Regions from separate parts of the Homo sapiens genome. Here region 2 is linked to region 1. A link means that fine-mapping ties the variant in region 1 to the expression of a gene that starts in the linked region. Tissue or cell type: follicular helper T cells. Region 1 holds a variant in brackets; the other region holds the start of a gene. All regions are shown on one strand. Distances are from middle to middle.

Region 1 (4,396 bases):
GGGCGCCTGTAGTCCCAGCTGCTCAGGAGGCTGAGGCAGGAGAATGGTGTGAACCCAGGAGGCGGAGCTTGCAGTGAGCCGAGATCGCGCCACTGCACTCCAGCCTGGGTGACAGAGCAAGACTCCATCTCAAAAAAAAAAAAAAAAAGTTATTAACACATAGGTAGGCTTTTTGTCTGCCCTAGTCATGGCAAAGACTTTATCCTGTTCACTATTTTTCCAACACCAAGCACAGTGCCGGGCACATGATAACAGGTTGATAAGCCTTTGCTGAATAAAGAGTCATACATGTAAATGGGGGGGGGGGGCGGTAGTGGGGAGCTAGCTTTTGCGGAATAACTACTGTATTCCAGGCACTTCCCATGCAGTATTTAATTTAACCATCACAGTGGCCCAGTGAAGTAGGTGCTGTCAGCTCCATATTACCATTGAAGACATTGAGGCTCAGAAAGGTTAAGCAACCTGACCTGGTTTGTACATCAAGATTTGAACCTAGATTCATTGACTTATTAACACCTGCTTTTCTCACAGTTCCATTGCTCTCTGCCATGCAATAAAACAAAAACAATTGCATCACCATGCATGACACATAGTAAAACATCCAGGTCCCTCTGTTGGAGATTCTGCCCTGACAACCCACCCCCCTTCCCCACTGAATTCTTCTGTAGTCCTGAGTGTGCTTGAGTATGTGCTTGAGTGGAGTATGCAACCAAGCATACAAATGAATCCAAGCTCACTCTCTGCCCCTCAAGTTTCGGGAATGGTGCATCAAGGCTCTCCAGAGGAATAGGACTAATTAGGGGGTGGAGGTGTAGAAAGAGAGGGTGGGAGAAAGATGTATTATGAGGAATTGGCCCACATGATTCTGGAGGCTGAGAAGTCCTAAGATTTGCAGATGGCAAGCTGGAGACCAAAGTATAAGTTCTAATTCGAAAGCCAGCAGGCTCAAGATCCAAGAGCTGATAGTTGAGTCTGAGGCCAAAGGCAAGAAAAGACCAATGTGTCAGCTCAAGCAGGAGGAGCTCCCCCTACTCAGGGGAGGGTCAGTCTCTCTGTTCTGCTGAGGACTTCAGCTGATTGGATCATGCCCACCCACATTGGAAGGGCCATCTGCTTTACTCAGGCCACCAATTCAAACATTAATCTCCTCCAGAAGCACCCTCACAGACACACACAGAATATTGTTTGACCAGCTATCTGGGCATCCCATGGCCCAGTGAAGCTGACACATAACGTTAACCATCACAAGTAGGGACCCCTGTTTTTATTCTCTTCTTAATAGGCTTGGGGAGAGGTTGGCCTCTCATGCTTCTAACTCATCAGCTGTTACCTGTGGGAGCTACTACCTACTCAGCATCGCTCAGGGCACTGCATTACGCCTTCCAGGCAATTATACAAGGTACTGCTTGAGCTTAAGCAAACTGAGAGAAGATTTAGCACACTTTCTAAAGGTAATATCATAAATAGACATTGATTCCAATCATTTTGTTTATTTTGAGATGGAGTCTTTCTGTGTCACCCAGGCTGGAGTACAGTGGCGTGATCTCGTCTCACTGCAACCTCCACCTCCCGGGTTCAAGCGATTCCCCTGCCTCAACCTCCCAAGTAGTTAGGATTACAGGCGTGCGCCACCATGCCCAGCTCATTTTTGTATTTTTAGTAGAGACGGAGTTTCACCATGTTGGCCAGGCTGGTCTTGAACTCCTGACCTCGGGTGATCCACCCACCTCAGCCTCCCAAAGTGCCGGGATTACAGGCGTGAGTCATCATGTCCAGCCTTGATTCCAGTCATTTTTATTGGCTCATGATACATCATCTTCAGTCATACATCATCTTCCTAAGCTTTACTTATCTATCTTGACTCTTTTTCTTCCAATTTCAACACACACAATTTAGGAGGGAAATGAGCCAAAATGGGGCAAGGCGAGAGAAGGAACAAATGGTCAACTGAACCTCTTTATGCCACAGAAGGAGCAAGACTGTCTATGGAGCAGTCAGGAACCACACATGTGTGAAGCCTAAAGGACCTTGGGGATCTCCTAGCCCTATTGCAACTAAGTCCCAGAGAAATTTAGTGACTTTCCTAAAGAGACACACGTTAGTGACCAGGGTAACCCAGACTTGCTGACTTCCAGCCCATCATTCTTCCCCTTGTTCCCCATTCCCACTAGAGGAGAACTTAGTGCCTTCCCAGCTTCTGAACCCACTCCTTGCCCCGGGTCCCCTCACCATCCTGGCTTCACTCTCCACTGGAGACTCATCCACACAGGGTCACAACTGCACTTTGTTGGAAGGAAACGGGTTGAAATACAAATTCCATGTGTTACACTCCAGCCTGGTGTCATGCCAGCTTTCATTTCTCAAACATTTTTGTTTTACCACCATTTTTAAGGCCATTCTGCCTTTCAAGCTTTTATCTTTTAGTTAAAATAACAAATATTTCTGAGCACTTAGTATTTGCCAGGCACTGTTCTTTTTTTTAATTTTTAAAAAATATTTCGTGTAGAGATAGAGTTTTGCCATGTTGCCCAGGCTGGTCTTGAACTCCTGGACTCAAGCAGTCGTCTTGCCTCAGCCCCTGAAAGCGCTGGGATTACAGGCGTGAGCCACTGCACCTGGCCTGTTTTTTTTCTTTTCTTTT[CTT/C]TTTTTTTTTTTTTTTGAGACAAAGTCTTGCTCTATTGCCCAAGCTGAAGTGCACTGGTAGAGACAGGGTTTCACCATATTGGCCAGGCTGGTCTTGAACTCCTGACCTCAAGTGATCCGCCCACCTCAGCCTCCCAAAGTTCTGGGATTACAGGCATGAGCCACCGTGCCCAGCCTTAAGTTATATTTTTAAAAGGTAATAAATGCTCCGACTCCATCATGTCCTGCTTGTGTTATTATACTTTACTCTTGAGGCCGCTTTCGTCAGCTGTAAAATGGTGTGCTCCTCCACCCTCAATATCGGTACATCTGGTAGCTAGAACTGGCCACAGTGGGAGTATTTACAGCACAGAAATCAGTCAATGATAACAAATCAGGGCCCCCTTCCCCTCCTTGAAGAGCTGGTTGTTAAGTAATTACAGCACACCATGGGAGCCAGCAACCGTTTTAGAAAGAGCCTCAAATGAAGATGTTCACACTGTGGGCTAATGTTGAACAACCAGATGATAAAAGGTGGAAATTGAGGAGACTGGACAAGACTCTCACCTGGTGGTTGGTCATCCCACGTGTCTGCAGAGGCGAATCAAGGGGATTACTAAAGGGAAAACAGGAATTTTTCTCAGGAAAACAGTTCTAAATTCATGAAAATACAATTAAGTTCAGAAACATCGATTACTTTTACACCAATCAGAAGTTCTTCTAGTCATACACATGTTTGTCGGTTTCTGAAAGGGGTGTGATACGGTTTGGCTGTGTCCCCACCCTAATCTCATCTTGAATTATAGCTCCCGTTATTCTCATGTGTTGTGGGAGGGACTCAGTGGGGGATAATTGAATCATGAGGGGGGTCCCCCATACAGTTCTCGTGGTAGTGAATAAGTCTCACAAGATCGGATGGTTTTATAAGGGGTTTCCACCACTGCATTCCAGCCTGGGTGACAAAGCGAGAATGTCTCAATAAATAAATAAATAAATGACAGAACCTACAAAGTGCAATGACACTGTAAAAGTTGGCTGTTAGTAATAGTATCAACGTCATCATCACCATTATTGTTATCATCTAAAAACCAAGATCTAAGCATGGATTATGCTAATATTTACAAATTGGGTTATATATGTATGCGATACTTAAACATTTTTTTTTTTTGAGATGGAGTCTCGCTCTGTTGCCAGGCTGGAGTGCAGTGGCACGATCTCGGCTCACTGCAACCTCCGCCTCCTAGGTTCAAGTGATTCTCCTGTCTCAGCCTCCTGAGTAGCTTGGACTAGAGGCACCTGCCAGCATGCCCAGCTAATTTTTTTTTTTTTTGTATTTTTAGTAGAGACGGGGTTTCACCATGTTGGCCAGGATGGTCTTGATCTCTTGACCTCATGATCTGCTGGCCTCGGCCTCCCAAAGTGCTGGGATAACAGGTGTGAGCCACCGTGCCCGGCCCAACATTTCTAAGGAATTCATGACAAACTTGTAACTTTTACACAGGGGATGAAAGACTAAAAGGATACTTAAAATGGAAGACAGGACCTTTACTTTGCAAAGAAATTCTGTGGCTGTCCTATCCATGAATCAAGATTTACAAGAACTAATCAGAGGAAATTGGTAGACACAAAACTGGAATTAGCTTGAGGAGAATTACAGGGTATCATGTGGAATTTAAGTCCACACATAAAAATAATATCACCCTCCTGAATCTTTCAGCCTTTTTCAATCTATCACCACTTCAACCTTCCGTGTCAGTCTCTGATTATTTTTTTT
Region 2 (4,396 bases), 240 kb before region 1:
CCACAAATGTTTATGTAACAGATTGTTGTCAGTAATGCATGTCAAAGTGACAGCTAAATTCACATGATCGATCTGCATGTGGCCCCATACACACGCGTGACTCACCTTTGTGCTAGTGGATTTCAGAAGTTTTTGATGTCTCTGCATGTATATTCTTGTAAGAAATCATTTTTGGAACAGGTTTTGTGAGGAAGGTGGTAGCACCTGATGAAGCCTCCTCACTTTATAACCTAAATTGGGCTAAGTCTCATAGTTATGGGAGAAAAGAACACTATAATTAGAACACTAACATTGGAAGTAAAAACGTTGTTTATAAGTAATTACTTGTAAAATTTTAAGTGAAATGTTTTTCTTCAGGCATGTCTTCAGGCTTTTGAAAAGTTCACAAATAAGAAAACCTGTCCTCTCTGTAGAAAGAACCAGTATCAAACCCGAGTGATACACGATGGGGCCCGCCTGTTCAGAATCAAGTGTGTGACCAGGTGAGGACGCCAGGCCCGTTTGGCGCTAAGCAGACACAGATCAGGCTATGACAACTAACTTGTTTTTTGAATAGTGGGATTTTATCTCTCTTCTTGGCCACCATAATTTCCCCAGGGCCTTGTACAGCACAGGGCTTATAACAACTACTGAAGTATTGGTTGACATAGAGTCATCATAAATTAGTCATTTTCAAATATCTGTGTTTTAGAATCCAAGCCTACTGGAGAGGATGTGTTGTTAGAAAGTGGTACAGAAACCTGAGGAAAACAGTACCTCCCACAGATGCCAAGTTAAGAAAAAAATTCTTTGAAAAAAAGGTAGGTAAAGATCATTATGTTCTCCAGATATGGTCTCCGTGCGGGTGGTTCACTTGGGGTCAGGAAGGCTAACAGAGGTGGTAAAACTTTGAGACTTACTTCACTTTGAGGGCTTTTTAAAAATGGGTGAGATGCTGCTAAAAATCCTGTTTAACTTTAGTTGGCTTTCCAACCTAGATGTTCAAATACTTCTAGACTTTCTTTTCTAGTTAAATCATAAAATTAGGTTAAATCAAAGCAACTTCTGTTTGGCCATTTTGTGCTAATTGTTTAAATAAACTTATCTCTTCAGACACAAGACTGGAAACCAGCTTAATTTTTCCCATCTCCTGGGCTATATGTAAATGAAGACATCTGCTGCACATCTCATAGTAATGAAAATAGAAGCTGCCTATAAAAATAAAGCCCCCACATGCTACCATTGTATTGAGTACCTCGTGGGGTCATCACAATGAGCTTTAGAGCTAACTTCCATGTCTACCCTTCCTCTTAACCACTATTTATGCTTTAGTTTTACTTTTGGGGGACTTATTTAACAATTTCCCATTCCTTGTCCCCATATGAAAAGGACAGTCCTACCCCATCAGCCTGTGGCTTCAGGCAAACAGCAGCAGCTCCGAGGCTGTCATATGAAAGCCATCACTTCTTCCTGGCAGTGTTGGCCTGAGAAGAGCTGTAGCATTTATAATGGCCCAGCACACAGTAGGTGCTGGAAATTCTGTATTTATTATCACTATTAACTCCTTTCCTAGAATATGGAGATGAGTTACTGTGTGTTCTGTTCCTGAGAGCAGTGTCTCTGATCTTCAGAGATCATTCGTCTCGGGTGTTCATTCTCAATTTGGTAAAGGACCGCCATGCACGATTGCGTCATCCTTCCTTTACATTCTTTCCAGTTTTTTATCTTCAGTCGTTGACAGTCAGTTGTGTTCTCTGGGCTACTCTTAGTAATTTCTAATATGTCATAGTAGGTTGTCTCTTAAATCAGAAGTGATTTTTTGTCACCTCTTATACAATTTTAATTACAGATTTGATAGTCATTTTACCTTATATATATAAATATTTTTCATGTGCACACATCATTTTATAAGAACTCTTGAAGATAAAGGCCCACTGAAAGTGTTGGTGGTCTCAGCCCATTGAACTGGACGAGAACTGGCCCAGGTTGCTGGAAACAAGTGAAGCAACCATTACAATGTGCCTTGTGTTATCTTGTAAAGTAGCCAGTGAAGGTTAAGTTTCAGCGTTCAGTGCTCAGGTGTTCAAATGCTGCAGCCTTCAGCTTCATGGAAAAAGGAAACGAAAAATAACAAAAAGCAAGTGACCAAGAGCAGTCGGGGCAGGGAGACCTGATCAAACAAGTTCCTCAGTTTCTAATTCAGTGTCTCCCACAGAGAGATGGAACTTTACAAGGCAGATTCATAGCTCTGTCCCACTGGACGTTGGGTCCGCTGCCCTGTGGCCATCCCACCTCCCCACAAATACTGTTTTTTGTTTTATCCTTGGTTCATCCCAACTGCTGCCTCCTCGTCCTGAGCCCTCATCGCTCGGAACGCCCCGCTCTGATCCCCGTGTCTGCTTTTCTGAGCACACTCTTGCCCGCCCCCGCATGTCCTGCCCGTTCCTACTGGTTCCCTCTGCCTTGCTTAAAATGTGCCAGTTTTTCAAAGCCTAGCTGAAGCTTTCTTCCAATTTCTTTGGTCTTCTCTAAACCTCTATTGTATGTTTAAACAACACCATCTAAGAGATCAAGAAGAACAGAAGTATGAATGCTATTCTAGCTTGTATATTACAAATGTGGTTTTTCCTTTGGGGCTTTTAAGATGATCTCAGATGATTTCAATAGCAAATTCACTTAAGCTGAATATCTGTGAAGAAACTGATAAGTAAAACTGATTTTTTATTTTTTGCAGGGGTGGTAGTTGAGAACAAACTGTATAAGTTGTTTTTTATTTTTATTTAGAGACAGGGTTTCGTTATATTGCCCAGGCTGGCCTCAAATTCCTGGGCTGAAGCGAACCTCCCACCTCAGCCTCCCAGTTAGCTGGGATTATAGGCAAGAGCCATAGGCTAGGGCAGTGGCTTTCAGACTTTTCCTCAACCACAATAAGAAATATCTTCTAAGCAATGTTGACAGAAAAACCAAACTCTGTAAAGTATTTTAAAGAAGTTGACTCTGACTGATACGAGTGACTGCAGGCCAGGAAACCCACTCTCAAGGAGTCCTGAGAAAGTGCACCCCGGGCGGTTGGATTACGGTTTGGTTTCATACATTTTAGGGAGGCAGGAGTTACAGGCAAAGACATCAGTCAGTACATGGAAGTTATACATTGGTTTGGCCAGAAAGGCGTGATATCTTGAAGTGGGGGTTTACAGATTGTAGGTGGATTCAGAGATTCTTTATTTGCAGTTGGTTAAAGGAGTAGGGCTCTATCTAAATACTGGAGTCAGCAGAAGGGAATCTCTAAGTTGAGGATGCTGCGCAGCAAGACTGATGGCCTGCGGCATGACTGTCCCTTGCCGGGCATGGCCTTAGGTCTTGTTTGTACTTTGGTTTCTTACTGCCTCAGACTGCCGTCAGCCTTATCACTTTTAAAGGAATACTGGTCACTTCAGCTTAAACTCCAGCAAGGAGTGGGCATAAGGGGCATCTCACCTTTCTTCCCATCGTGGCCAGAAATTCCATTGTTAAGGTTTTCCTAGGGCCCCCTTGGCCAAGAGGGGGTTCGTTCTGTTGCTGGGGGCCTTAGGATTTTTTTTTTTTTTTGAGACGGAGTCTCGCTCAGCTGCCCAGGCTGGAGTGCAGTGGCACGATCTTGGCTCACTGCAACCATCGTTTCCCGAGTTCAAGCAATTCTCCTATCTCAACCTCTTGAGTAGCTGGGATTACAGGCACCCGCCATCATGCCCAGCTAATTTTTGTATTTTTTAGTAGACACAGGGATTCCCCATGTTGGCCAGGCAGGTCCTGAACTCCCAGCTTCAGGTGATCTGCCTGCCTTGGCCTCCCAAAGTGCTGGGATTACAGGTGAGAGCCACCATGGCCTGGCCAGGATTTTATTTTTAGCTTACAGCAATGACCCACCACATGTATACAGTTAACAGAAACGTAACTTTCGCAAAGCAAAATCTGCTTTCACTGCAGGCACCACACTGTGTTCATTTTTATTCCACTTCGTTTCCAAAGTGCTGGGCCTACTACATTAATGTTATGGGTCACTGATGGGTTGTAGATATCAGCAGTCTGCATTATCAATAACTGCCACCTTAAACATAATACAAGTGACCGTGTTATCTGCTGAACTGTAATCTTACCTCATTCAAGTTTCAAGTGTGGGGGTGGGGAGGAACAGATGTATACATATACGCACACACACTCAGATCATAGTGAGGTTATACTCATAATTTGTTACATGAATAGGGATCCTATCATGTAACTCTTGCTCACTTAACTCATTTGGCCATAAACACTTGAAATCTGTAAACTCAGATCTCATGTTAAATAAATGAAGATTGAACTTACTGTAAAATAGTGTATTAGCAGTAGGTAGTAGGTGCCTATATGGGTCCATGCCCTATGTGCTTGTATGCCTGTA

Which allele goes with the higher level. Alleles are on the strand shown, and positions count from the first base shown. SD is a standard deviation of normalised expression in the study named.
In carriers of allele CTT in region 1, the expression in follicular helper T cells of the gene that starts at base 2,189 in region 2 tends to be higher than with C alone (large effect, 1.4 SD a copy in Schmiedel 2018).

What was found. PIP is the estimated chance that this variant, and not a neighbour inherited with it, causes the effect.
Region 2: it holds the start of RNF32-AS1, and the variant in region 1 is the best candidate, but not a certain one, in a credible set for the expression of RNF32-AS1 in follicular helper T cells (Schmiedel 2018, PIP 0.61).

What each region holds. Positions count from the first base shown.
Region 1 is chr7:156,898,539-156,902,934 of GRCh38, forward strand. All of the region lies in intron 2 of LOC102723795 (a long non-coding RNA gene), which reads left to right. Among named protein-coding and RNA genes, the nearest start is that of LMBR1, 7.6 kb to the left of the region's middle. The variant CTT/C (reference allele first, on the strand shown) is at 2,642.
Region 2 is chr7:156,657,771-156,662,166 of GRCh38, forward strand. It overlaps RNF32-AS1 (RNF32 antisense RNA 1), which reads right to left and starts at 2,189. Exons shown (of 3, transcript NR_189275.1): 1 at 106-2,189. RNF32 (ring finger protein 32) reads left to right here. Exons shown (of 9, transcript NM_030936.4): 6 at 358-482; 7 at 692-800. RefSeq lists an enhancer at 1-571.